Regions from separate parts of the Homo sapiens genome. Here region 1 is linked to region 2. Evidence: fine-mapped expression QTL. A gene starts in region 2. The other region holds a variant in brackets. All regions are shown on one strand. Distances are from middle to middle. Region 1 overlaps GSDME (gasdermin E). Region 2 holds the start of GSDME (gasdermin E).

Evidence for each region. PIP is the estimated chance that this variant, and not a neighbour inherited with it, causes the effect.
Region 1: its variant is fine-mapped to the expression of GSDME in lymphoblastoid cells (CAP, PIP 0.95). The same link has a PIP of 0.9 or more in lymphoblastoid cells after a statin.

The regions. Positions count from the first base shown.
Region 1 is chr7:24,709,861-24,725,202 of GRCh38, forward strand. GSDME (gasdermin E) reads right to left here. Exons shown (of 10, transcript NM_001127453.2): 4 at 9,187-9,358; 5 at 7,394-7,514; 6 at 364-528. Among named protein-coding and RNA genes, the nearest start is that of GSDME, 40 kb to the right of the region's middle. RefSeq lists enhancers at 7,820-8,407, 8,694-8,893, 9,014-9,203, 10,701-10,800, 14,524-15,207. The variant C/T (reference allele first, on the strand shown) is at 7,716.
Region 2 is chr7:24,751,379-24,765,774 of GRCh38, forward strand. It overlaps GSDME (gasdermin E), which reads right to left and starts at 6,086. Exons shown (of 10, transcript NM_001127453.2): 1 at 6,018-6,086. LOC124901820 (translation initiation factor IF-2-like) reads right to left here. Exons shown (of 3, transcript XM_047421177.1): 2 at 6,284-6,559; 3 at 4,946-6,191. The coding sequence ends at 5,478. RefSeq lists silencers at 5,636-5,685, 5,696-6,275, 7,086-7,235 and enhancers at 6,356-6,585, 11,952-12,246.

The sequences.
Region 1 (15,342 bases), 41 kb before region 2:
GAACGGGTTCTCCATCCTCGCGGCTGATGAGCCATTCTTAGTAGTCAACAGGGCTTCTGTGCTTACAATGAAAGAAAAATGCCAAGCCCCTGACTGCCTCACTCTTCAGTCTCCGACCCCTACCCCATGGAGCGTCATTCTCCCCACCCTTCCTAAAATACAGCACCCACAACCTGGGGCTCCCTAAGATCCAACCGAGGTGAGTCCTGCCGAGTGGACTGGGCCTCGGCGGCATCACCTCTCTTCTCATATGTTTTCTGTGAGTCACTGAGGGGTCACTGATGCTGAAGGCCACACCACCTCTTGGGATACAGGGCTCAGTTGGCCCTCAACTGCCCACTACTCCTGCCCTGCTGGCAATACCTTGCTTTAAAACACTTAATGGTCCATCCTGGGAAGATATCCCATGCGCAGCATCTGGCATGTCTATGAATGCAAACTCTCGAAAGACCAGGGGGTCCAGGTAGACAGAGTCAATTCTCTTCTTGTTCTCGAAGCCACCTTGCTTCCCTCGGAGAAGGCAGAACTCTGTAGTGCAGGAGAAAAGGACAAGTTAGGTAAAGTTGAGTCTAAGGTGTGCCAACAAGTCTGGACAGGGTCAGCCCAGCCTTGATGGCACATCTTAGACGTAACTCAGTGGAGCAGAAGACCCATCCATCTTCCCCATAAAATTCGATCCCTACACACATTATGTTGCTTGACCAAAAGCCCAGCCACTTCCAACAAATAAGGAAATGGCTGTTCTTACATAAAGCTCCCTAATATATATTCTCTGAACAGGCTGGACACAATCTTTAAAACATTGGAAATATTATTTTATCCTGATTTGAACAAACTGATTCTAAACAGACAAATGAAACCTGACATGCACAAAACAACTAGGAAAATCTGAACACTGATAATATTTTAAAAGTATTGCCAGTATATTTAGGTGGCCAAGTAGTTATGTGATTATATTTTTAAGAAATCAATGTTTCTATAATATATAGAATAATATACAGCAATAAAAAATAAAATACTGATGTCTGCAGTTATATGAATGAATTTCACAAACATGTTGAGTGAAAAATGGCAAACACAAAAGAATACATTCTCTCTGAATCTGTTTCTACAAAGGCAAAGCTAGTCTTTTTTCAAAAGCCTTATCATTTCAAGGTACTAAAATATTTACAGATGAAACAATATAATGCCTAGGATTTGCTTCAAAATAATCCAGCAGGAGAGGAAGGAGATGGTGAAGTTATGGCTAAAACATGAATTGCCCTAGTCACTGAAGCTGGATGGTGGGCACATGGGAGCTCACTACATTATTATCTCTACTTTTTAACATGTGGGAAATGTCCATAATAAAAAGGTTTGTTTTTGGTTGTTTTGTTTTTGTTCTTTTTGAGACAGAGTCACTCTGTTGTCCAGGCTGGAGTGCAGTGGTGTAATCTCAGCTCACTACAACCTCCGTTTGCTGGAAGCGATTCTCCTGTCTCACCCTCCCGAGTAGCTGGGATTACAGGCACCTGCCACCACACCTGGCTAATTTTTGTATTTTTAGTAAAGATGGGGTTTCACCATGTTGGCCAGGCTGACCTCAAGTTGATCCACCTACCTCAGCCTCCCAAAGTGCTGGGATTACAGGTGTGAGCCACTGCTCCAGGCGATAAAAAGTTTTTTAAATAATAAAAAGGGCCGGGCATGGTGGCTCACACCTGTAATGCCAACACTTCGGGAGGCTGAGGCAGGCAGATTGCTTGAGCCCAGGAGTTTGAGAGTAGCAACATAGTGAGACCCCGTCTCTACAAAAAAATTTAAAATGAGCTGGGCATGGTCACACATGCCTGTAATCCCAGCTGCTCTGGAGGCTAAGGTAGGAGGATCCCTTAAGCCCTGGAGGCGGAGGTTGCAGTGAGCCAAGATCGCACCACTGCACTCCAGCCTGGGCAATAGAGCAAGACCTTGTCTCCAAAAAAAAAAAAAAAAAAGGCAAAGAAATGTTTTCTCAAACACTTCCATATTTGAGAACCCAGCTAAGGTATCTAAGGTGTAGATAAAAATGTAAGTTATTACGTCCTTGCTAAGCAGAAACAGTAAATGAGCTCAAGAATTAGCATTCTCTTTATGATTCTATTTACTAACTTGTGTACGTAAGCAAAGGCTATGGAATAAAAATGTGGCAGGGCCCCGTATTTGCTGAAATGTAGAAGGCATGAGTATTAGCAAATATTTTCATTTGCTTGTGGGCATTAATGATGCTCATAAAGATAGAATGGAAAAGAAAAAGAAGAATGGCTGTCTAAAGACAAAGGAAACGATCCCTGGGCTTTACCCACCTGGCCCACACCAGCATTCAGGCTGACCCTACTCCTCCACACTTTGCGCTTAGCCACAGGGGTGCAGGAGTGTGAACCAGCACCTAGGTCATAACTTTGTTCCCTGAGGACAGGAGCCTTGACCATTCACACAGCCTCAAATTCTGCCAGAAGCCCTGCCAGGTCCCCAAAATAATGTGGAACCAACTGGCATTTTAAGAATCCACAGCACCAACCACACACCACACTCTCACCTTCACCCATGCATAGCTCCCTGAGGGCGCCACCAATTAATTCCTTCATTCTTTTCATCCATCCATCCCCAGCCAGCCAGCCAGCAAATATGCAACAATGTAAATCTTTAAAATTCCCTATACCAGGCCCCGTGCTCACAGCCACAGATACAAAGGACTACAACCAGGCCTTGACGATGAGTGTGGTAAGAGTGGGGACAGCGGTTGAACAGGGCTGAGGCCAGAGTGACCAGCGGGTGGAGGGGAGGAAAAACATCTTTCCTTCTGCTCATCCTAGGTTCATGGCTGAGGCCCCTATCACAACAGACAGATTAACAAGAGAGGCCAGGCACGGTGGCTCACACCTATAATCCTAACACTTTGGGAGGTCGAGGCGGGCGGATCACCTGAGGTCAGGAGTTTGAGACCAGCCTGACCAACATGGAGAAACCTCGTCTTTACTAAAAATACAAAATTAGCCGGGCATAGTGGTGCACACCTGTAATCCCAGTTACTCAGGAGGCTGAGGCAGGAGAATCGTTTGAACCTGGGAGGCGGAGGTTGTGGTGAGCCAAGATCGCACCATTGTACTCCAGCCTGGGCAACAAGAGTGAAACTCAGTCTCAAAAAAAAAAAAAAGGGAAAAGCACGCAACTTTACCGAATAGCAGTTTTACATGACATGGAAGCCTTCATAAGAAAATGAACATGTGAAAAAATAGTTAAATTTGAGTACTTTTTTGCTAGGTTTGAGGGACAGTGGTGGAGAAATGTGGCAGGGCAGAGCATATGATGGAAAGGCCATTCATCCAGGAACTCAGCAAGGCCTGTCTCTTCACCTCTCTGTGTCCTGTGTCGGGAGACACGGCTGCTCCTTTCCTCCAGGCAGAGGGACGGCGCCTCTCCCCTGAGGGTCTGTAACCTGCATCAGGGGAAGGTTGGAAAATCCTTCAGAGGTTTTATGACCTGCTACAGGGAGAAGGGTGAGGGGAAGGTCACAGTGACCTTCCTGCTTCTGTCATCTTTTCAAATTCCTTCACTTTAAAATATCTTAGGACTGCATGTCCTGAACCCCGTCACAGGGAAGGAGAACCAGAAAAGCCATCTGATGGTTGGGCAGGAGCAAAAGAGGCAGAGAGCACGCCCAGAGAGAGGCGCAGCAGGCCTGGGGGTGGGAGAGGGTGTGCCATGCCCCAGACCTCAGTGAGATCACGGGGCAAGTGGCACTGTGACCAGAGGGAAGGCACGAGACCCATGCTGGGCTGGCCCATAAGGCGTGACATGGTGCAGACTGCATTCTTGGGACAAAGAGCCACAGAAGGGTGTCTGAGCAGGTGAGTGAAGTGGTCAATTTTAAAACAATCCCATTAGCTACACTGCTAGGATGGAACAGACAGGAAAGAATCAGAGTAGCCAGTTACGAGTCTGTGGCAGAGCCCCTGTAGTCCCAGCTGCTTGGGAGGCCAAGGTGGGAGGACTGCTTGAGCCCAGAGTTCAAGGTTGCAGTGAGCTATGATCCCGCCACTGCACTCCAGCCTAGGTCACAGAGCAAGGCCCTGTCTTTAAGGAAAGCGAGGTGGGGAAGCAGGGAGATGGTGTTAGGGCCAGTGGGGAGACGTGCACAGATTCAGGTGCAGCGTGGGAAACAGGTTCACGCCCACAAGGCATCCAACTGGAAGTTGGTGCTGAAGGACGCTAGCAAATGCCAAGATGTATAAAAGTGCAAGGCAGAAGGTCAAGAGAATGAAAGGGTGTTTCTGATTGGGCATAAGTGTCTCCTGAGAGGGGAGCTGTGGGTGAAGGAAAGGGTCTCATTGCAGCTGGCATGGCTGAAGCACCTGGCCGGGATACAGATGGAGTCTGCCTCCCTTCGAGGTTTCAAAGGACGACCAGGATCTCTGTCAAATGCAATCCCACCAGGAAGGTAGGGAGAGAGAGCAGGCATGTCTTCTCAAGGGCCCTTCCAACCACTGCAGGTTTATGTCTATGAAGCTATACCAGAACATTCTGTAGCAAGAGCAACAGAAAACGGATGGGCAAAAAAAAGAAAAGAAATAGCAGAACTGGTTTAAAATCAGGCAGTGAATCACCCAGAACGATGACCTGACCACCAAGCCACCATAGGAAGGAGCCACGGAGCTGCCTCCTAGGCCAGGATCCAGAACGAGCCAAGGGAAGGCCGAGATATCCCCAGGGTACCTCTTCTCAGCAGCACAAAGAGGAGTTTATTTTCAAAGACAGTGGAAGCTGGAAAAGATAAAAGCCTTGAAATTGAAATGCAAACAGGAGAGCCCTGCCAGAACAAGGCTGTGTGTCTTTCAAACCCCATCTGAGAAAGAGAGGCTACCTCCACAGAGCTGCGTCAGGGCAGGGTCTGGTCACCTCCTGGGACAAACAGGAGGAAGCTCGCATGGGGACCACCACCTAGAGTGGCAGCCCAGGCCTGGGTCCCCGCCACCGAAGGGTCCGCAGAGCACTCCTGGGCATCCTCAGGTGCATGCCAAGATTTCAGAAAGCGTTACAGAAGTGACGCATCCTTCACTACAGCCAAGATACGGAAATAATGTAACTGTCTGTTGATGGACAAATAGATAAAGAAAATTGATGTATTTACACAATGGAATACTTTTTGGCCATGAAGAAGAAGGAAAGTCTCCCATTTGTGCCAACCTCGATGAACCCAGAGGACAGGATGCTAAATGAAATGACCCAGGCACAAAAAGATGCATATCACATGGTCTTCCTTATACATGGAACTGAAAAAAGCTGAACTCACAGAAGCAGGGGGTAGACTGGTGGTTGCCAGGTGCTGGGAGAAATGGGGAGATGTTGTCAAAGCATGCAAACCTCCAGTTGTAAGCTGGTAAGTTCTGGGGATCTAGCATGGTGATTATAGCTAATAGTACTGCAGTGTTTACTTGAGACTTGCTGAGAGGGTGGACAGTAAGTGTCCTCACCACACACATGCAGAGGGTAACCATGCTGGGTGATGGATGTGTTCATTAGCTTGACTCAGTAGTTATCCCGTCACAATGTCTATGTCTATTGAATCATCACTTGTACATCTTGAACATACAGTTTCTGTGTGTCAATCATACCTCAGTAAGCTGCGGGGGAGTGACACATTCACCACTGGCCATCAGTAAGACTGGACAGGACCACCAAGGCAGACATAGGGGGGCTAGAAACCCAAAAGTGCAGATGGTGACCCTACTTACCACATACAGATAACAGAGACTAGAAGAACAATTTGATCCTCTTCATGATGCACTTTTTTTGGAAGACAAGTCTTTTCAAAGAGAAAGATGACAATAATAACGAAAACGCCCCAGAGGACACAAATTTGGAACTACGGGCCTCAAGGAAGCCACAACACCTGGTATTCTCAGCATTTCTTGGTCCCTGACAGACCTCTTTGACCAACTGCTTCAAACTGACACTTTCTCTTTCTGTCACCTCAGATAAATCATTTCACCGCCCTAAAATGCAGGCTTCTTCATTTGCAGAATGAGAGAGGGAGACTCTGTGCACTCCTTCTGTGCCTCGCCTGTTTCTCCTAGGGATCCTCAACACCCTTCAGCTTGTGGACAGCAGCACACGAGGACACTGAGCATTCTGTTTGAGTCCCTCTAGTGGCTGCTGAATGGCGTAGTGACTCATGTGGGCTTAGCGAGGGCAGGAGCTGTCTCACGGGAGACTGCCCCCCACCCGCCTTCCACAAATGGGGGAGAAGCAGGAGGCAGCAGCAGGCATGTGCGTGGTCTATCACGGCCCTTTTAAAAACTGCTGTTACAGAAAATGTCAAACTGCACAGGAATAGAGAGGAGGAGCGTGAACCAGCGTGTGCCCATCAGCCAGCTTCAGCCACTGTCCCCTCTCAGCCAAGCCTCCTTCCCTCGGCAGCTGCCCATGCTCACACCCTTTATGCTCCACTCATATTATTTTTGAATCAAACCACAGACATATTACCATTTCATCCGTGAATGTTTCAGTGTACATCTCTCAAAGATAGGATGACTCATTTTTATAAATATAACTATAATACCATTGTCACACCTAAAAAACTTCACAATTTATTATGTTACATTTACCCACTCATGTCCCTAAGGAGCGGTCACACAGCTTTCATGAGTGAACACAACCTCTTCTCATTGGGAACATGAGGAGGGAAGGGGCTGTGAACACCTAAAGTGAGCAGACACGCTGAACCAAAGCTTGGATTTTCTTCCGTGACAACAGCTGGGTCTCTGCGCTTTGAACACACTCGTGATCAGCAGAGGAAAGTCAAGTTCAGCATGTCTGGCTTCATACTTGTGGAGAGGAGGTGGGGTAACAATAATGATGATAATGCTATTAATAGCAAAGGTGGAGGAATTAATAAATGACCACTGTGCCAGGCGCTTCATAGGCCTCATCTCATTAAATCTTCACACAGCCCTGTGAAGAAATGCCCTTCACCTTCCAGAGACAGGGAAGCCAAGACTCAGCAAGATTCAGCAACTTGCCTGAGACCTCATAGGACATCATGGCACCGGGGTTGATGCCCAGTGTGTCTGATGCAGAGCCCAGGTTGATGCCCAGAGGACACAGCCCAGCCCTCTACTGTGCTGGTGGAACTTTGCCCCACACCAATGTTGGAGGAGAGGGTGGCATTGCTCCAGGCATCCCTCACCACACCCCTCCCCCAGTGCAGCCCATGTGTCCAGGGACCATGTCTTGGGACAATCTACGCTCTTCAGACCTCTTTCCCTCTCTTCCCACAGTCTCCAAAGCAGTCGAGTCCTCTGGAAAGCAGTCAAGTCCCTCTGCTGAGGGATCCTCTGCTGGGGATCCCTCAGCACCCATAGGAGGTGGCACTCACCGAACTGGCCGTCCAGTTTCACGTATAACTCAATGACACCGTAGGCAATGGTGGTGGCAGCTGGGATCTCCAGCACCACGTTGGAGTCCTTGGTGACATTCCCATCCTCCGTCGCTGACACCTGTGGGCAAAAGCGCACACTCCCACCTGTGCACTCGGGCTCTCCAAGCTGCTCTGTTCCCCACTGCAGCCAGCCTCGTGCCTTATACATAAGAGATGCTGAGCAATGTCCACAGAACCGAGTGGAACAGAGGAGCCAGCCAGCATGGGGGATGGGGGGATTCAATCCTTGTTGGCATCAGTACACAAATTCCCAAGTAAA[C/T]GGCCAACCTGGTGGCATCAAAGCGAGATTATAGAGCGTGGGATACAGTGAAGTTAGGTCTACAGTGCTGTGCAAAGATCATACGATACGTAAGATCACCTCCCAATTCCCTCCATCACAGGTTATGGAAACAACTGAAATCCTAATGAAAACCTTAAACAGTAGCCAAGTTGGACTGGGAGAACCTAGCTGAGAGGGCCCCCTACCCCGTGCATATCACTCCAGACCCCTGTAGATGGTGCACAGTGCTGATAAAACCAGGAACAGAGAGGGAAGTGGGAAGAGGCCGGAGGGAGGAGAGGCAGGAAATGCCAAGAAGTCAGGCACCAAGCTCCTGCCTTTAAACACTCTCACAAACAGGACCCCTTCCCACGATGTCCTGGTGAGAGGAAGATGAGAATCTATTTGTTGGCCAAACACTGGCAATCAGAGAACTTTTCTTAGCAACTTGATCCTGGTCAGAGTGTGTTGCTTTGGGTTGAGAAATGGCAGCTGGCCTCCTGACTCTGAAAGGCTTCAACACTTTGGCAGGAAGTGACTGTGGCAGGAGCACCAGCAGGGCCGGCCTGAGCCATCTCCCATCGGCGCCTCCCTCGCTGCTACCCAGCCCCAACCCAGTAAGAGTGCTGGCCCCAGACCTCTACCTCCAGCTCCTTCCAAATACAACTTTCTGAGTTCCTCTAGAAAAAGCCAAAAGTCATCCCAAGAAGTAAATCTCTAAGAAAATATCAGCCACCATGGCAAGCTGGAGGAGAAAGAGTTTGGGGCTGATGGCCACCTAGTCCATTGAAGTTTAGTACTGGCTCACAGATCAGCTTGGTAAGACTGTCAATAACTTAATCTAGAAGAATCTATGTAGAGATAGCTAGATCTTACCTGCCCTAACTCAACCCACAAAGGATTTGCAGCAGCTAATTCCAAGTAATCACTGTGAGAGCCCCAGCTCTGAGAGGCTCTAGGGATTCTTTTGCATTTGGCCTGATCAGTGCCTGTGTGTTCATTTTTCTTGGGGAAACATCTGCCGCCCACAGGAAGAGCACCTGACGCCAGCCCACCTGGCCCATTCGAGTGCCTGCAACCCTGCCCTGCTTCAGGAATGAACATATCCCGGGACGGTCTGGTGAGACCCAGTCCTAGGCCCCCCTCACCCCTGGAGTTGCAGCAAATCAGGAGCAAGCCTGGAGCTGCCAGCACCATAGGGAGAGCCCATCTGAGAGGGCATCAACCCAGGGAAAGCAGCTCCCTATATATCCTCAAGGCCTGGATCCAGCAGTGACTGGAGCCAGTTTCCCCAAGTGTTTCAGCTACATGAGCCAATACACTCTTGCTCATTTAAGACAACGTGAGTTGGGTTTCTGTTAACTTGCTACGGAAAGAGTCCTGACTAATGAAGACACCACCCAAAGAGGCCCCCAACCAAGGTCTCCAGGACTGCTCAGCCATGAACGCAGGGCAGCCCGACTGCACGCACCTGCACCGTCTTGGTCTGGATGCCCACGATGCCACCACACTTCTCCTCGACCTGCATGTGCTCAGAGATCACACACTTCTGCATCGTCGTGATCTTCTGTGTCAAAACGCACAGGACCTCATTCCTTCCTTCCAGCACCTGCTGGAGCACAGGGTTTCTCAGATTTATTGTTCTGAAAAAGAAAAACGGATGTGAGTGGCTTAGTGCCTCAGGGGACATTGGTGTAGTGTGAATTTCCTCTTGCACAGCAGGCAGCTGAGGAGTGAGCAGGTGACAGCCAGGCTTTGTTGATTTCCTCATGATGAAAGGGGTGGCAGGTCACCTGGAAAGACATAAACCAAACTCTCTTGAGGCCACCTCAGAGCTGCCGGGCCTCTGGGGGCCAGGCTAGATGCCAGAGGGAAGGGGGCTTTCAGTCAAACAGCAGCGCCGGTTGTCAAGGAGAAGAAAAGAAAATCAACCAGGGCCAGGCGTGGTGGCTCACACCTGTAATCCCAGCACTTTGGGAGGCTGAGGCAGGCAGATCACTTGAGGTCAAGAGTTCGAGACCAGCCTGGCCAACATGGTGAAACCCTGTCTCCACCAAAAATACAAAAATTAGCCAGGCGTGGTGGCACACACCTGTAATCCTAGCTACTAAGGAGGCTGAGGCACGAGAATCGCTTGAACCTGGGAGGCGGAATTTGCAATGAGCTGAGATCATGCCATTGCGCTCCAGCCAGGGCAACAGAGCAAGACTCCATCTCAAAAAAAAAAAGGAAAAGAAAAGAAAACTAACCAGGAAGGAAACTGCAATCCATGTACCTTAGACCCTGGAAACTCCACTTTTTTATTTAATCAGAGCTGAAGGATGTCAGACGTCACAGCCATGGCCCAGGGAATACAGGATTATGATGGGAGGAATGGTGACCAATTGCTTCTCATTGAGAAAGGAATAGGCCTAAAGTATGAGTAGCAAGAAGGAAATTAGATTTGAACTAAGAGGAAACTTCTTAACCTGTCTAGGAAAGATGTTTCATCTCTTAGAAGGGGTTTGATGTCTTTTTACACATGGGGAAACTGAGGCTGGTTATGCATGGCCTATCCAGAGTCACTCAGCAGAGATTTGGGGCTCCCACCCAGCCACTTGAAATTCTGCAAACTTTCAAGAACAGACTAAATTTTTATTTACAGGAGATGATTTCATGCTTAGAAGCAAATGATGAAATAACTTCTCTGGAGATCTCATTCAATACTATGATTCTATGAAATGGACAGGAAAAGAACCAAACTAGAGTTGGTGACAGCACAAGAAAAATTATGGTATCCATGCTGGTCTTTTTTTAAGAGGTTAGTTACCTTGAAAAGCTCAGCACCCATCCCTGACCACACACATGCTGGGTCACCCATCCTAGACAGACTCAGGTTCTCTGGGCTTCAGAAAGTAGCCCTGGAACTGGAGTGAGTAGCTAGGAAAGTCCCATCTCAATGTAATCACCTGCCCAGAATAGAAACAACTCACGTGTCCATCAACAGATGAATGGAGAAACAAAATGTGTTATAGTCATATAATGAGATATCATACAGCCATAAAAAGAAATGAAGTTGGGCCGGGCACAGTGGCTTATGCCTGTAATCCCAGCACTTTGGGAGGCCGAGGCAGGTGGATCACCTGAGGTCGGGAGTTCGAGACCAGCCTGACCAACATGGAGAAACCCCGTCTCTACTGAAAATGCAAAATTAGCCAGGCACATGCCTGTAATCCCAGCTACTCAGCAGGCTGAGGCAGGAGAATTGCTTGAACCCGGGAGGCGGAGGTTGCGGTGAGCTGAGATTGTGCCACCGCACTCCAGCCTGGGCAACAAGAGCGAAACTCCGTCTCAAAAAAAAAAAAAAAGAAGTGAAGTTCTGACATCTGCTGCAACATGGGTGAACCTTGAAGACATTATGCCAAGTAACACACTCCAGGGACAAATGAGCAATATTGTGTGGTTCCTCATATGAAATATCTGGAACAGGCAAATTCATAATGACAGAAAGCAGATTGGAGGTTACCGGGGCTGCAGGGCTTCGCTGCCTGATGGCTGCAGAGTTCCTAGTTGAGGTGACGAAGAAGTTCTAGAAATGCAGAGTAGAGATGACGGCACAACAGGGTGAATGTATTTAATGCCACTGAATTTTACACTTAAAAATGGTTACAACAGTAAATGTTGTGTCTCATCTATTTTACCACAATAACAAATAGATAAGACATAGGAAAAACGGGTTCAATCTTAGTACTGGTTAAGGAAATTCAAATTATAAAAATGTCTCACACGTGATAAAAATACATTGATGACAACCACAAAGCTGCCGAGAGACTCCATTTCCAGGAAGGAACAGGAAACAGGGACCCTGGAGCCTGCAGGGCTGGGGTTCGGATCTCAGCTCTGCCCTCCCACTGGGCAAGCTCGAGTGAAGGGCCACCTCTGCACCTAGGTTTTCTCGTGCATGAACTGTTGGTAACAGGGCCCCCTCCTCATGGGGTTCCGTCAGGGTTTAGATGACATGCATGCAGTGAGCCATTAGGGTGTGCCGAGCACAGAGTTAAATGCCACACAAACACTAGCTGGCTCCGCCCACCTTCCCGTGTCCCTCTATGAGGCTCACAAAACAAAGCCACAGTGTGTGCCCTGCATGGGAATTATGGGGCACTGAATTGAATCAGAGGTACGTTTCCACATCACTCCCTTCTTAAAAGCCTTCAATGGCTATATCCCATGTCCAGTGCGTTCCCAGGCTGAGGCCCCATGTGATCTGCCCTGCCCCCTGTTGACTTTATCTTCCAGCCTTCTTACTACTCCTTAAAAATGCCAGGTGTGTGCCTACCCCGAGGCGTTGGCACACATTCCCTGATGGCCACATTTCACTGACTCATTGGTCACCTCCTCGGGGAAGCATTCCCTGCACCCCCATCATGCTATCACACCCTAAGATCACTTCTCTGGAGAGCACATTTCCACAGGATATTTTTCTAGCTCATTCATTTATCTGCTCATGGCCTGCCTCCTCCATCAAGAATATAAACCCCACAGAGGTGGTGAGTGTGCTCTCCTGTTGACTGCATATCTCAGGGCCAGGATCAATGCCTAGTACGTAGGAAGAGCTCAGGAAATATTTTTGGAATAAATGAGTAAATAAAACTTGTGAGGTTTTTTCCTCTATTGGTTGAATGAATGTGTACATATGTATTTGTGCATCCACGTGTGAAAGACAGAAGACACGGAAGATGGGGGAAATGGAGGATCTGCAGCTTGGATCAAAAAATGGTGCATAGCAGATGCGATCTTCCTAAGGGATTGCATGTCTTGGTCCCATAGGCAAAGACTTTAAAGATAAAAGCCATTGTAACCACCGGTCAGAACATACATTCAACTGTTCCCTTTCCAATGGTCTCTTCCTTCTATTGCTCAAAATTCTAGCAGATTCTTGAACGTCTGTCTGTGCCCTCACAACTAAGGCATGGGCTCCTCCCAGCTAGACGCACGTCAGACACATCACCGCCTGGTGACGACCCCACAACTGCCGCCTTTAGGAGTCTGATGTGACTCTGCTGGATTGGAAATCACAGCCCTCCTACCCGCCCTAAACAGAATCCACTGAACACTGGACACTGCTCCTAGCCAGTGTGAAATTGTTTGAAAAGAAAAAGCTCAGCCTAGACTACTCAAGACTCCACTGCTTAAAATGCCCACCTCCCTCCAGAACCCCCACCTCAAACACCAAAAGAGAGGGGCAGCCATCTACGCAGGTGGGCAGGCAACTGCCTGCTGTATCCGATGACAGGGCAGTCCTGAGACGCTTGCTGAGTCGCTGCCTTCAAAAGGTCTCTGTGGGGCGGACCCACCACAGCGCAGGAACAGAAGCTCGCCCAGGGACGGAGACTGTCTCCAAGGCTAGGATTCGGGTGACCAGAAACGTGTCACACAGCCACAGCTCATGCAGGCCACTGGGAATCCTTCCCTGGGCAACCAAGGCAGGGCTGCCGGAAACTGCAGGCATCATCCACCTAGCAGCAAACACTTCCACCCAAGTCACTGGGATTCTGTTTCCCAGGACAGTGCTGCCACCTTTTGGAAACCAAATGCTGGAAATATTTAATCATCTTCAGTTAGGAGAGGCCCCACAGGGACAGCGGGGAAGCTACACATCAGGGAAAATGGATTTTTCGTTTGACTCTCTGAAAAGCAATCTCGGGAGGGAATTCTTCCCCATCTCCTCCCTCAGTCAATTCCACCAAGCCCCAAGCAGCCCCAGGGGGAGAGCTGGTGTCCCCTGGGGACGGTGTTCTCAGGTGCAGACCCAGAACAGTTCAAGGTCACCAGACCCTGGCTCTGGCCCTCCTCAGAACAGAAATCACCATGCAACAGGGCTCCCCTGTGCCCGCCTAGTGCAGAAACCAGCCAAATTTCAATGCAATTTGTTTACTGTATAACCTTATATATTTTATTATAAGCATTTAAAGAGGCCCATGGGTTTCTTCAACTGCTAATAGAGTTCATGAAACAAAACATTTAAAACTCTCAGTTGAGGGTTTCAGAAGAGTTTAAAAAAAAAGAGCCTAGAGAGGTTGATGGTAGTAACCAAAGTCACACAGCTGTGAAGCCCAGGTCTTTTACAATGGCCCACATGGCCATAGCACCCATAGCTGCTGTCTCCCTCTTCTGGGTGAGGGCACCCTTGGGCTGTACTAGGAATTGAATCTTCATCTCTATTAACTCTTGTATTGCTATGTTCATTTCTATATGTAAATATCTTGCCTATGTAACCAGACCAGTAGATGGAGGCTGGAAAAGCAAGTTATACCCAAGTCCTCTGGGAATCCTTATCAGAATATCCATGCCTGCCTGTTCTCCCCAAGCCCATCTCACTCTCCTCGTGGCTGCCGCCCTGTGCCATTTGACAGTTCTTCCCCAACTTGTCCTGATTTCTTTCCTCTCGGGCCCTGTGAGAGCCACTGAGCAACACAGACAGAATGGCTTTAGAGACACAGAAAACTATTAGTAGTGGTCGCCTCTTGGGTGGGGAACCAGATGGCGGGGAGGGGCTTTTCACCTTTTCTCTTTTGACCTTTTGACATTTAAACCATGTGAATAGATTGCCCAGTTCCAAAAAAAAAAAAAAGTATTTTAAAAAAAGGCCTTCTGGACAGACTGTAAGCTCCTGGAGGACAAAGTACTTGCTCTTTTTATTGGTGCCTAGCCCTGTGCTATCCACCCAGCTGGGGGATAAAATGAATGGTTTATCACATAAACCCGGGCAGGACTGGAATGAGACCCTCTCCCCAAGTCCAGCCAGGAGCCAATGCCCAAAGACAGGGAAAATGGAGCAGAAGCTCTTCCAGGAGAAAATGAACAAGCAGAGGTTCTTCATCCGCTTCACACATCTAAGGGCAGGCTCCTTGTTCTTCCTGGCGGGGGCGGCAACGTGAAAGCAAGAACAGGAGGCCACTGAGGCAGAGGCGTATATCCTCAACAGAAAGGGCCAGCCCCAAAGGAGCAAGTCTGGAGGCAGGGGAAGGGGGTGCATACTCAGTCGAGAAGAACTCCCTCTCCTCACTCAGGGGCTTGGCTCAACTCCGCCCACCCAGTTCTACTGTGAGGTTGCCCTTCTGCGCGTACCTGGCAGGTCGATATAACACAAAGACCTGGAGTCATCCCGGAATCGGTTCCCTGCTCCAATGTGGTTTAATGTTTGTCCCTTCTAAGTTTCATGTTGAAATGTGATCCCCAGTGCTAGAGGTGGGCCCTGGTGGGAGGTGTCTGGGTCACGGGGGTGGATCCCTCATGAAAGGCTTGGTGCCCGCCTTGCAGTAATGAGTGAGTTTACACTCTGAGTTCACACTGGTTAAGAGTGTGGTACCTTCCCCCTCACTCTCTCTTGTTCCTCTTTCTTGCTCCTGTTCTTGCCATGTGACATGTTTGCTCCTCTTTCACCTTTTTCCATGACTGGAAGCTTCTGGAGGCCTCACCAAGAGCAGATGCTGGCACCATGCTTCCTGTACAGCCTGCAGAGCCATGAGCCAATTAAACCTCTCTTCTGTATAAATTACCCAGTCTCAGGTATTTCCTTATAATAATGCAAACAGACTAACTCAATCTCCTCCTAGCTGAGCTACTGCTCCAGTCCTGAAGCTTA
Region 2 (14,396 bases):
CGCTTGGCACAGTTGCACAGTCACACAGCTCTTAGGATTTAAGAGATGAGAATAAGCTCAGACTTTAGCTCAATCCACCTTAACATGAATCTCTTTCGGGGCATGGGAAATCATTTGTCTTATCGATCACTGGTTCTTTTGTACAGTATCTTTTCTTAGATTATTATGAAGCAGTAGCTACCTGACCCTGTTCTTGTATATTAACACTAGGAATGAACATTTAAGGAAAAAATTCTAAAATATGCAAGGAAGTTCCTTTCTGATAAGGTGAACTGCAAAGCAGCATGACTAAGGATGCTCAGGCTGTCATCTGTAATTTATCTGTCACTATGCTATGCATAAGAATCTTGCATTCAATGGAATACTCATTTATTTATTTACCAAATCATCAACTGAATCATTCACTAATTTTTCTTGAGTACCTACTATACTACTGTGTTGAAGCACTTAGGATACAGAAACAAAAAATAATTTCTCTCCTCAATGAGCTACTAGTTTGGTGGCCAGATGGAGAAATAAACAGCTTAGTTTTATGTTAGCTACTGGCAGAGATTGTTCCAGGGAAAGAACCAAGAAAAAGGCATCTAAATCTCATTGGAGAGAGGCATACTGTCACAGAAGTCCTCCTGAAGTCGATGACATCCAAGCTGCATTGTGTAGGCTAAGTAGAAGTAAGCCAGGCAAAGGAGCACTATATGGATGCTGTAGCTGAGGAGCAGCCATTATGAAAGCACAAAATTTGCAGGAGGTGATGGAGGGATGGGGAAGACAGTGCCAAGCAAATGGGTTACCAGTGAGCTTGAGATGGCCCAGGAGACATTGTGTTGTATTGATCTGCCATCCACCACTTTGACAGACTGGAAAGACTGGTCAAGCTCTGAGCTTGACTCTTGCACTGGAATGCAGCATTCCAGAGTGGAGAAGGGCCAGAGACAAAGCTGGGGAGGCCCCCAATCCATGTCCTGCCTCTCCTGCAGGGCAGCCAGGGAAGCAGGTGCCACTGGAGGATCTGTGATCAGAATGATCCCTTAGAAAAATCTTCTAGAAGCAAAATAGCAAAGGGACTGCAGGGGAACAAGATTAGAGATGGACAAAGATGACAACGCTCTGGACTATGTCAGTGGCATAAGGATAGAAAAGACACTCGCTTGGTGAAGGGTGGTGATGAAAGAAAGAAGGCTCCCTGGGGTGTCATGCTGGTATCCCAGGTGCAGGCTGGGAGATGAGAAGGAAAAGCCAGTTACCAAGAGAGGGAATTTGAAAGGAACAGATTTACTTTGCCAAACATGGGACTGGGTCTCCCTGAGGGCCTGTGAGAACTCGTCCTGCTAGTCCAGGAAAAGAGCCACAGAACAACTGCTTTAGTTTACCACTGCTGTCAGGATCTCCACTGTTATGGCTTCTAATTCTTTTCTGGGACAAGCTGAAAGGGAGTTCACTCACGCACTTGCCTTCAGATCACACAGGTTTCTGTAGAAACCAAATCAGGCTTGCCATTAAAAAACAAAATAAAACCCATCTGCTGTGGGTGGGAAAACCTTAGTAAAGACACCAATCCTCCCCCACAGGGATTAGACGGTAAAAAAGAGGAAATTCCTAAATTAATTTTTCATGTTTTTTTTTTTTCCATCTAACATCAAACAGCTAATTTGCCTTCTTGGCAGGGTAGGGTGCTTTAAGGAGAGTAACTGGAGGTGGCTATTTATTGCTTTGTTTATTAGACTCAGACTTTTTAATCATGGGACTCAGAATATTCTCCTGGTGAAGTTAAAGTTGGAGGTTTCTTTATTACTATTACATGTGAATTATACTTACACGGTTCAAAAATCTAAATGATGTAAAGGATACACATTGAGAAATCCCATTCCTGCCCAGGCCCCAGCAACCCTTTCACTCCTCTCCCCTTCAGCCATATTTCCTTCATATTTCTTTATAGAGGTGTAGTTAAAAGGAGTCTGAACACTGCTCAGCATCTTGCTTTCTGCCACATACTCCCTTATGCAGATGTATCATTGCGCATTTTACTTGTCCCATGTTGCTGACCACTTGGGTTATTTCTAAATTTGTGTTATATTAAAGCTGTCCCCAGGAAATACCCCATACGGATGTCCTCTTCATAAACAAACAAATGTATCTGAAGGGTAGATCCCTAGAAAAGAGATTGCTAGAACAATGGGTAAATGCATCTGTAATTGTAGGAGTTGTGCTATTCTGCAGTCTGACCAATAATGTACAAAAGTATCCATCTTAGCAACAGTGTATCATTAGACTTTTGGATTTTTGCAAGTCTGATAGGTGAGAAATGGAATCTCAGCCTAGTTTTAGGTTGTGTTATTTTAAAACAAATAAAATCAAGCATCTTTTATTTTGTTGAAAGACTTTCTGTATTTAACTGTATCCTTTGCTCATTTTCTATTCTTGCTTTTTTTGGCTTTATTTCCAGGAATGTTTGATATAATAAATCTACCAAAATATAGGCTAGGAACAACAGAGTTTATCATGCAGCATTAGGGGACAATACACTGCCACCATCATTCTCAAACACATAAGATAACTAGTCAGCCAGGAAAGATTAAAGAGTATGGCCAGGTCCAAATGAATGAAGGATCTAGAACTCAAGTTGCCCGACACAGACAAGCACAGTCATGTCTCAGCCAAAAGTCAGACTCTGGATTAACATTTTCACAATGCTCCAATTTGGGAGAAGATGAAAATGGCCTCAGGAGGCATCATGCTCAAATAGCTCATGGCCTAAAAACTCACTGCACTTCACAGTTGTTACATAGATCACGGACTCTCGCACAGAGCCTTAAAAGTTATATTAGCAGCCGGGCCTGGTGGCTCATGCCTGTAATCCCAGCACTTTGGGAGGCCGAGGTGGGGCGGATCACCTAGGTCAGGAGTTTGAAACCAGCCTGGCCCAACATGGTGAAACCCGGTCTGTACTAAAAATACAAAAATTAGCCAGACATGGTGGCAGGCAGTAATCCCAGCTACTCGGGAGGCTGAGGCAGGAGAATCACTTGAACCTGGGAGGCAGAGGTTGCAGTGAGCCAAGATCCTGCCATTGCACTCCAGCCTGGGCAACAAGAGCGAAACTTTGTCTCAAAAAAAAAAAAAAAAAGTTGTATTAGCAAACAGTCCTTAGTCTGGCTTCCCAGCTGAAAGCAGATGAGAACTAAAAAGGCCAAAGCAAATGCAGTAAGGATATCCTAGCTTGAGTCAGACTCTTGGACAAGAGACCTTGTGGGGCAGACACCAAGAAAGCAGGACAATGACACAAAGTTAGCAAAGCACACAGCCAACTGGAGCCACTGGGAACAAAGAATCTTAAAAATAGTTGCCAAGGTAATGACTGCAGGAGAAGATAACTATATTCACTACTGCCTGTTAAGACTGATTCAGTCATGGAGTTATCTAGTTTTTAAATTAGAAGAGAAACCTCATTCTTTCTCACACTCCATTCAGGATTCTTCTTAAAAGCAGCTCTGGTTGAACCCTGGGCCTCTGCCTGAAGAGTTCTAGAAAAGAAACTTCAACATCAAATACTCTAGACAAAGAGAGGAGCAACTGTTTGTTGAGTATCTGCTATGTTCCAGGCATGGGTCTTACTGCCTTATACACATTTCCTTATTTAATCTTCATAATAACTCTTTGAAGTAGGCAGTGTGAGGAAGCTGAGGTTCAAAGATGTTAAGTAACTTGCCCAAGATCACAGCAAAGAAAGAAGCAGCCCTATCAGGGAACTGGCCTGGAACTATCAGGCCCTGGTGTTGCTGACCATGAATAATGGCACAGAGCATCAACATCAGGCAAGGCCAGTCTTGTCATGATAAATCAACATGAAAACAAGGCTTCTCTGTAATCATGCCTGAACACAGACAAAACATGAACACGTTCAAAGCACAAAAATGATCAAATACCACCCCCCTTCCAATCATTAGCAGTCCTAATGAGTGACTGCTGCTTCCTGACCAATCACAGCTATAGCCTCTCTCTGGCCTTCTCTCATTTTTGACGAGATTTACGAGGATACTCAATCACAGAACTTCCCCTGCTTCCCTGACCACATCCAATTCAGAGCAAAGCCCTCTTTCCCCAAATCACCTACTACATGCCCAAATCCTCTGTCCTTTCTAACACCTCTTATTGAGACATCTCAGGGTTCCCCATGGTGTCCCTCACTTTAAGGAGAAATAAACCAACTTATTGAACTGACAGTGTGTTCCTGGAGGTCTTTGACTGGAGGGGATTGAACATCACATAGAGAATCAGTGCTGAGCCAAGATTCCACCCGAGGTCCACCTGACTCCAAAGCCTGTGCCCTTGACCACTCTACTCTGCTGGCTCCCTGTTCAGCTTTTTTTCTGTTCTAATGTGGGCCTCATATGACTCATTCTGTAACATAAGAAAGTGCCCTTGAAAAAGGTAAACCTCAGTTACGGTGGAAACAGAAATCATTGCTATGGAACATGTGTCATTTCCTTTCTATCTGGGGAGACGAAACATGGCTGTACTTGTCTACTTGTCTCATTGTTAGCAATTTCAGCATACTTTGAATTAGTTTTAGTTTTCTAGATAGCAAAGTGCAATTGGGTCTATTAAATTAGAACAGAGGTGGCATCTTTTATCTTCCTATCCCTACAGCCCAGTACCTGAGCTCATTTTTAATGAGAAGACAAATTAATATTTCATCATTTCTTTCTAAAATAAAAATCGGTATGTGAACGCAATGATGGTCATAAGACAGGCAGGAGCTCGAAAGGAGAAGGAGAGTGAGGCGCCAAAGGCTTTGGGGAAGTGGAGTGGGTAACAGAGGGCAGTCTGGGTAAGAATAGAGAAGATGCGGTGTGGTGGCAGGCACCTGCGGTCTCAGCTACGGGTGTATGGGAGGATCCCTTGAGCCCAGGAATTCAAGGCTGCAGTGAGCTAGGATAGTGCCACTGCACTCCAGCCTTGGTGACAGAGCGAGACCCTCTCTCAACAATAACAAAGAACCTAGCCAAGGGACCGTGGCTAGGGGGTTGGGCCCTTTCTCTCTCAGATCTACCTAATGGTCTGGGCTCAACTTCTCCTTTAGAAAAAGAGCTTGGTGGTGGTAGATTGTGAAGACAATTAATTTCACTCTTCAGCTGCTTCTCCAACCCCACAGCACTCCTTTCATTCCACTTGGACTTGCCCCACCTGCCTGCGTCTCGAGGACAGCGACCGCAAGCCATCCATCCCTTTCATTATCCCATTCACTATTCTGGACAGAGTAGACTCTGGAGGAGTGGGTGGTCGGTGTGTTCAGTCCACAACCAGCGCTTTTCTAAGAGGTGCCCTCTAGTCTTTCCCCTCGGGGTGCAGACGGCAAGCGGCTCTGGAAAGGGTCAGAGGTCCTCAAATGGAGACCAAAGGAAGCCACGCGGGCAGCTCTTGAGAGCCATTCCAGCGCATGCCAGGCACACCGAGTGGGGCTTGGCCTCCTCCCCAAGCTAGGAGCTCTCTAGATACCGGAGCAAAGTGGAGGGGGACTTTTTTCCGTCCAGAGAGACTGAACTCCGTATCTGTTCCGCGGTCCGCCTCCCTGCACACACGCCCCCGAGCCGGGAGAGCCTCCGCAGCACCCAGAGAAGAGACCGGAACACAAAGGATGAACGAATGGGGAGGGGGGGTTTGGGGGGTTGGGAGAACGAAAATACCAGCTGCGCTTCCAACATCCAAGGAAGGAAGTGGCAGCGGGGACGGGGAGAGGATGGGAAGGGGATGCTGACTGCGAGTTGGGGCGGGACGCGGTGATGGGAGGGGACCGGGCCGGGAATGCGGGAGGCGAGGGGAGCGACGGGACCTGCCGTTCCGGCGGCCGGGCAGCCAATCGATTCGTCTCCCCTAGGAAGGAGCGAGGGGAGGGTGGCCCAGAGAGAAAGCGCCGCGCGGCCTCGGCTGCCCCCGGCCCGGGACACCCAAACAGACCAAAGAGGATCCGGAGTGGAGCCCGGAGCGGATCCCGCAGCCCGCGCCCGCCGCGCACTTACCCGCGCGCCCGCTGCTGGGTCCCCGGCAGCCGCGCCCCCTGCGCTGGCGGAGTCGGAGGAGCCTGCGCTGGGCCGGCGGGGGGCGGGCGCTTGGGGAGGGCGGAGAGAGGGCCCGCCCGCCGGGACCTTTGCTCGGTCCGGGCGCCCCAGAGCCGCGGGACTGGCCGCCGGAGGCTGCGGGAGGGGCCCGGGCCAGACCTCCCAGAAGCCCCAGAGAGAGCCGCTTCCCCTCCTTCGTGTGACTCTCTGGGAGCCGGGTTGCTGACGGCCCAGCGCTCAGCCGGAGTCCCCGCGCGCTTTTCGGGACTCACCCGGGAGATGTCGGGGCCTCTCGGGAAGAGTGGGCTGCGCCTGCCTTCCGCGGCCGCCTCGCCTCTTCGCTGCGCGGGACCGTGGGGTTTGAGAGCGGCGCCTCCTCGCGGGGCCGAACCCGCCACCCACAGTGGAGTGTGGACTGACACCGCGGCCTCACGGTTCAACCAGGAAAGTCCAAGGCCTGTCCAGCCTGTGGGAGCCCCTAATGCCCGTGCCTGGAGTAGTATCTGGGTGTGTGGTGCGACAGTGCCCACACTTAGGCCTGCCGCTAATCAGTGATTCATTCCTGTAAACTCCACTCTAAGCTCCTTGAGGGCAAAACCAGGCGCTCTCACACACTGGGTGCTCAACGAATACTGAACGAGGGAATCTCAGCATAGCTGGTGCTCAAACATTGCTTTCTGATGAACTGACTTAAATATTAGCTCTTTTTGTAACATTAGGACCAGCTGAAACCGATTAACCATTACTTAAGTTGTTACAGCGAGGCAGAGCCAAAATCTCCCGGGCGTGTGCAAGAGGGAAAGCTTTCTAATTGTGAACACCGCGCGCCCCGCAGAAGGCTGCATTGGCATCACCTGGGACTGGTTAGAAATGCCAAAAACGCCTGACCCGCTCCCAGGTCCAGAAGACAGATTTAAGCTTTGCCTCTTGTCTCCTTGCCAGTTGACTGGCAATAGAAGTTTTTCTTTTCTCAAAAGCCTGTGCCACAGTTTGGTTTCTGTGTGCCTCAGGTTACGAGCCCATTGCTCAGTGACACTTTCAGTCAGTGTATCGTCTTCACTGTGCAATGCTCTCTACTAAGCTGAGAGCAAAGAGTAAGAGAAAATGAAATTTCTGCCCTGCGAGAGCTCACACAGTATGGAGTTGTGTGGCTGTCTTAAAGGCTGTTCGGGGAGGGCAGGTAGAGAAGCCCGGCAGCGCTTTCCCTTGGGCCCCGCTATGCTTTAAACATATCTCTAGATTGCAATTATCCACCTCACTGTAAAGCCTTTCCTGACTATCCAAATTAAAAGTGCTGCCCACCCACCCACGGGAACACCTCCTAGTTCCTCCTCTGCTTTATTTTTCTCTTTGCACTCACCACCATCTGATAGACTGTGTGCCTCTTATTTCATGTATTATCCTCTCCTGTAAAATGTCAGCAGCATGAGGGCAGCTGGTCTGTTTTGTTCCCTATGCCCAGCACCTAGTTTAGGATTTGACACATGGTAGCTATCCAGTAAATAATTGTTGAATTAAGAAATGAATCCTTTTGTTTGTTTCTCCACCTAGACTGTGGGGCAGTACACATCCTTGCAGTACCCAGCGCAAAATAAGTGCACAATTAGTGGTTATTGGATGAAGAAGTGGTTCGAAATGGTCCATGGTGGTAGGCCCCTGATTTGCTAATGTGATGAGATGTTGGACGAAAGAAAGAATCCCAGCCCTGTCAAGAGACTTTTCATGTATGCTATTGGTTCTCTATCATTATAAAATTATACGGTGATGATTCTGGCTTGTTGCCAGAGATTATTGCATCCCCCGCTAGGGTACTGACCTTAAGAATATCCTCATAAACAGCATACTCATCAGGTTCCCACCCCAAAAAGCCCCAGTCCTCTATCTAGATAGTTACCACTTGTAATTCAGAGTGGGTGAACTTTTTGATGCAACAGTTACTAAGTGGCTTCAAATTCTGTCACTTTTTTTTTTGTCCTGCCTAGTCTTTTAATTAAATGCCCGAGGAAGATAGTAATAATATCAGCTGCTATTATTTATGTAGCACTTTCTGTCTACTGTCACCAAGCATGCTTCTGAGTACATTACATGCAATGATTGGCTCATTTAATCCTTACAACTATTTGGGGGTTTCAAGTTACAAATGAGGGAATTGAGGCACAAACTGGAATGCTCATACAACTGGGAAGAGACAGAGCCAAGATTTTAACCCAGGTTGTTCAGCACCATCTGAGTTTTAACCCACCATAGGGTAGACTCTCCAGAACAGAAAATAAGAAGTGCAGAAGTGCAGTAGGGGTCCCCCCACCCAAGCAGTGTAGGAGCATGGTCTGTGTTGGGAGAGAGGGATGACTTGTGTTCAAGATCTCACCTGACCCCAGTCTGCTGCTCTCCCTGTCCAATGGTGGGGGGATGAAAAGGTTCTGGCACAGCCATAACTTTTTTAAAAAAATAATTGTGCTTATTATTATTGTTAAATAGACTATTTGAAGATTTCAGATGAACATATACAACATGGAAACTTTTAGCCCAATTGGAAAAAAGTAAATAAAAAGAAAACGTGGAACTCCAATCTTCTTATTCCATATAGATATATCCCCTTTGAGGAAATGGAGGGCTATGGAAAGAAAATCTCACAGGAGATCAATTGGAGTGGTCCTAATGATGATGGTAAGCAGCATCTGCTTTCAAAAAGATTCGTTATATAAACTATGTTTCAACTTACAGAACTTCTGAAACACATCTATTGGGTGTCGTGTATTTCCTACCCTATGCCTAGATTCTTGCTAAGGAAAAATACGCAAAGGGCAGCAAAAGTCAATAAAACTCATTACCGGGATTTATTTCGTAAATGAATACACCAATAAACCAGCTCTGCATGGCTGCCATAATTGCTTCCTAGTTCCTTGAGAACCACATTTGGAGACCTGGACGCTTTCAGATTAATAACCTCTGCAAAGGAGAGAAAAACAGACTTTGGATCCATCAGATTTGGGTAGAATCCAGCCTACCACTTACCAGCTGAGTGACTTTAGGCAAATTGTATAACTTCCCATTTAAAAATTACTTATAACATTGTCATGAGATTATATAAAGTACTCAGCCCATAGTAGCACTCAATAAAAATTAGTTTCCTTGCCTTTATTAATTACTTTTCAGCTAAAGTTGCCTTTAAATTAAGACTACATTTTTCACATATGCATAATTTTGCCTTTTACCATATTGATTGCTTCCCAGAGGAACATAGCTACTAACATAAATTAAAATAAAATTTGGCATACATTGATATATATTTTAAAACTGATTTCATTTACCTCCCTAAATCCCAAAAGTGCTTTTTAAACTGGAGACTGTATTGCCAATGCATATTACTAATTACTGCTTTAAAATAAAAAGCTTTATAGAGGGTTAAATATGGTCCAGAATTAAATCTGTTTCTCTTGGTGTCCCAACCTTCTCTTATTCAATTGCAAGGCACGGATACAGATAGGAGAAGAACTGAAATTACTTGGCAGCTAGCAAATGATCAACCAATATTGTCAAAATCAAAAGTCTCAATGCAAATATTATTGGACAAACAAGGAAATGTGAAATAATTTGCTGTCCCAATTATCAACTGCTGTATAACAAACTACCCCAAAACTTAGTGGCTTGAAACAACAACCACTTTACTATATCTCACAATTTTGTAGGTTAGGGCTTTGAGCAGGGCTCAGCTGAGTGACTCTTCTGTTCCATGTGCACTGACTGGGGTCACTCAGTGGAATTTAGCTGGTGAAGGTGAATGGCCTGGTTTGGAGGGTCCTGGATAACTTCACCCATGTCTTTGCCCATTCGGTTTGCTGTAATAAAATACCATAGACTGAGTGGCTTATAAACAACAGGACTTTATTTCTCACAGTTCTGGAGGCTGAGAGAGAAGTCCAAGATGAAGGCATCAGCAGATTCGATGTCTGGTGAGATCCTGCTTCCTAGTTCATAGATAGTGACTTCTCAATGTGTCCACACCTGGTGGAAGGGAAGAACAAACAAAACAAGTCCCTAAGTCTCTTATAAGGGCACTAATCCCATTGATGAGGGTTCCACCTCATGACCTAATCACATCCCAAAGGCCCCACCTCCTGAAACTATCACATTGGTGATTAAGTTTCAACATATGGCTTTGGGGGAACACAAACATTCAGACCATAGCATCTCATGTCTAGTGCACTGGCAGGGATGCCTTGAGGGTGGGACTGAACTTGAGGGTTATCAACCAGAGCCCTACATGTGGCCTCTTCATCATGGTGGTTTTTGGGAAGTCAGACTTCTTATAGTGGAGGCTCAGGGCTCCAAAAGCAAATGTTCAAGAAAAAGAAACAAGGCAGAAGCTAGAAGTCTTATGACATAATCTCTAAACACCCAGAACGTAATTTCCACAACAAGCCTAGATTCAAAGATAGGGGTGGTATATTCTACCTCTCAATGGGAGAAACAGCAAAGAATTTCCAGACATCTTCTATCTGCCGCCCTTGTTTTCATGAAAGAAAGTGGCATTACAGGATAGGCGCAGTGGCTTCTGTCTGTATTCCCAACACTTTGAGAGGCTGAGGTGGGTAGATCAGTTGAGCCCAGGAGTTAGAGAGCAGCCTGGCCAACATGGTGAAACCCCATCTGTACTAAAAATGCAAAAAATTAGCCAGTGTGATGGTGCATACCTGTAGTCCCAGCTACTCGGGAGGCTGATGCAGGAGAATCACCTGAGCCTGGGAAGTTGAGGGTGCAGTGAGCTGTGATCGTGCCACTGTACTCCAGCCTGGGTGACAGAAACTGTGTGTCAAAAAAAAAAAAAAAGCCATAAAAGAAAGTGGCATTACATAAACAAAGTTAGTAAAAACTTCTGTATTGTTTGTCCATTGTTCATGGAGAAACATACGTTATTATCAGCATTAAGGAAATTTGTGATGAATACCAGTAGTCAGCCACCAGATGTCCAATTTACAGAAATATTCAAAATAATATGATCCAGAGATATACAAACTTTTTTCATCTGATTATCGTTATTTTTAAATATTGTCCAGTATCCAGGTGAGCTATACCCAGCATAGAGAAGTAAAGCCCATGCACCTAACATCTTTTTAACAAATATTTATTAGTGACCTACTAGGTGCTGGGTGCCATATTAGGTACTGAGGATATAAGGTGACCAACGAGAATGTGCTTCATGCCCTCCAGGTCTGTGGGCTTTGTAGTATAGCGGGAAAGGCAGACAGATAAACAATAAGGATAGAGGATGAGAAGTACAATGATCAGCTGTCCTTGTTAGGGTAAGCTAACTGCTAAAATGAAGTCCCAAATTATAATGGCTCAAATACAATAGTAGCTTATTTCCTACTCGGTAAACAGTCTGACTAAGGTACTTCTAGGTTTTGGGTGGGGTGGGTGGGGAGGAAGAACCACAGTCCTCATTCCTTCAGGAATCAGGCTGGGGGAGGCTCAGCTCCAGGTTGTTGAGGTTGCCCTGAGCATGGACACCTCGGGCAGATAGATAAGGAAAGAACCCGGAGACTCCCTCATGGGAGATTTTTATGGGAGCGGCACTTTCGGGTACAGGATGCATTCCAACACTCCCAGTGGATGCCTGAAATGGAGGATGGCACCAAACCCAGCCAGGATCAACTGGAACACGTTTCTGCTCATGTCTTCCACCACAAATTCAATGCCTTTTTCATCTTAAGCAAGCACTTACATCACATAGCGGCCATAACATTTGCAGTTCGAGGTGAGATAGCAAAACTAGCACAAATTTCTTTTCTCTTCTTTAGTTTCACAGAGAGATTTGGTTCTTGAAATAGATCTTAGCAACTTCAGCATACAATTTTTTTCTTTCCATATTGAGAACTTTCACTTTCTCACTTTACAGCTTCTCTTTGGAATATCCCAATTGCCCGCATCATTACTATTGCACAGAGGGGCCATTACTAGATAAAATAAGGGTGATCCAACTCAAACACTGCAATGTCATGACAGCCAATCTGATAACCTAGATGGCCACAAAGTGACCAGCAGGCAGGCGTGTAGACAGCATGGATATGCTGGACAAGGGATGATTTGTGTCATTGGAGAGGACAGGGCAAGACAGCATGAGATTTCATCATGCTACTCAGAATAGCACAAATGTAAAATTTATGAATTGCTTATTTCTGGAAATTTCCATTTAATATTTTTGGATGGAGACTGATAGTGGGTAACTGAAACCACAAAAAGTGAAACTGCAGATAAAGGGAGCCTACTGTACCTTCCTTTGGCCAGAAATCAGTCACAGAGTCTCTCCTAATTGCAAGACAGGCTGGAAAATGTAGTCTTTGTGCTCCGGAAAAAAAGGAACTGGGTTTCGAGAGCAGTGGCCGACACAGCTTTGTACAAAATAATTTTAGAGGGCAAATAGGTGATGGCCAAGCCCAGAGCTTTTGTAAAGAATCCCAACTAGGGTAAACCAGACAGCTGAACTGATTTAAATGACATATTTTTGGATTGTATAATACATTCTGTTTTTTAAAACGAGCCGTTCTTAATCTTACACCTGATTCCAAGAGTTATCTAAGAATACAGGGAGAGACTGGTGATAGAGTGGGTGTGGTTGATGTTTTCATCTATAACAATTTATTACTGATACAACTTCTTAGCTGAGTTATAATTGGAAGGGGAGTATGAGAATTGTGTACACACTTGTTGTTTGGTAAGGTCCTTAAAAAGACTAATTGCAATGGAAAAAGCAATTTGGCAAGGAAAATTATCCTGGCACCTGACTCAATCTTGACTGATTGCTAAAAGCACCAGTGTAATAAATGTGTTTGGTCTGAATGATGGAAAAGAAAACAACCCTGCAAGTAGAGCTTCTGTCACCTTAGGCACCTGTGATATCATGAAAGCTTTCGTTTCAAACTGTTGGTAGAAATGGAATTTTTTTCTAATACTATATGTTGAAACCTTCAAGCTTCTTTTTTTCTCCCCCAAAGAACTGTACCTGTCATTTCATTCTGAGGCTCCATCTCTGTAAGGAGTCTAGACATCCAGTGGGAATGGGCACACAGGGACTTCAGAAATCAAGTCAGCTTGCTTTCTGCAAGTAAATCCATCTTCTTTTGCTAACTTTCTTATATTAAAAAACAATAAAAAATCAACACCACCCCAAACCAAGCAAATCCCAGTGTCAGTGTGGGCAGCCAACTAAGACATGGCTGTTTGATGATTTTGGAGTTGGTGCAAATGCTACGTTTGAGTTCCAACTCTGCCTCTTACTTGCTGTCACCACTATTCCAAACCTCCACTTCCTTATCTGGAAAGTGGGAATAATCACGCCTAGCTCACTGAGTTACTGTGATTAGATATACCAGCAGATACTTGATAAATGGTAGCTATGATTATTAGTTTCTGATTCCCTGGAATTCCATTCCATTTTACAAATACTGTTGAGTGCCTACTGTGTACCTGAATAAATCTGGATTCCTGCCTTTAAGAAGCTTACAACCACTAGAGGAGTGACGTGCTGAAAAAGCTTTAAAAGGTCCCAGCAATTCTGACTTGGCAGAGGGAGTTTTGGGGAAACATACCATAGAAAGACCAGCCTTTGATTAGGGCCTCACAGAGAAGGCTGAGCAAGCATGCTTCAAAGTTCCCCAAATCCATTTCTCACCTCTCCTTGCTCACCAAAAAGCCTGGCCCCGGGTAATGCTGGACCTCCTCTCTAGGAATGATTAGCCTTACATTCTAGAATTAGAAATAGACTTGAGGTATAAATAGCCCCTAGAGAAGTCACAGTGCAATAAACAATCCCATTAAGTTTTAAATGTCGATACGGATCCTTTCTTGTCGAAAATGGACAAAAAGTTTACAAAAAGAAAATTAATATGAAATTATTCCACAACTTCGCTATTTTTAGCTTAGTTAGAACAATGGGCACTGTTAAATTGTTTAGCCTAAAGCTCCCTCCTTAGTATTTCAAGTTCAGCCTAAAGGTTGCTCCGGGTATAGTGAACTGTAACCTCACTGGATGTGTTAGGTTACAGTTCAGCCAATCACAGGCCAACTGCTCAACCCAATGTTGAAATAAGGCAGCTGTGCAGCTGTGCCCAAACCAACTGTTTCTGTACGTCACTCCCCTTTTCTGTACGTCACTGCCCTTTTTCTGTCCTTCAATGTTATCCAGACATGTGGCAGCCCCAGAGTTGCTCTGAACCTATTCTGGTTCTGGGAGCTGCCTGAGGCAAGAATCATTCTTTGCTCAATTAAACTCTGTTAAAGTTCATTTATCTAAAGTTTTTCTTTTAATAGCACCAAGTTAGATATCTATAATACCCACAT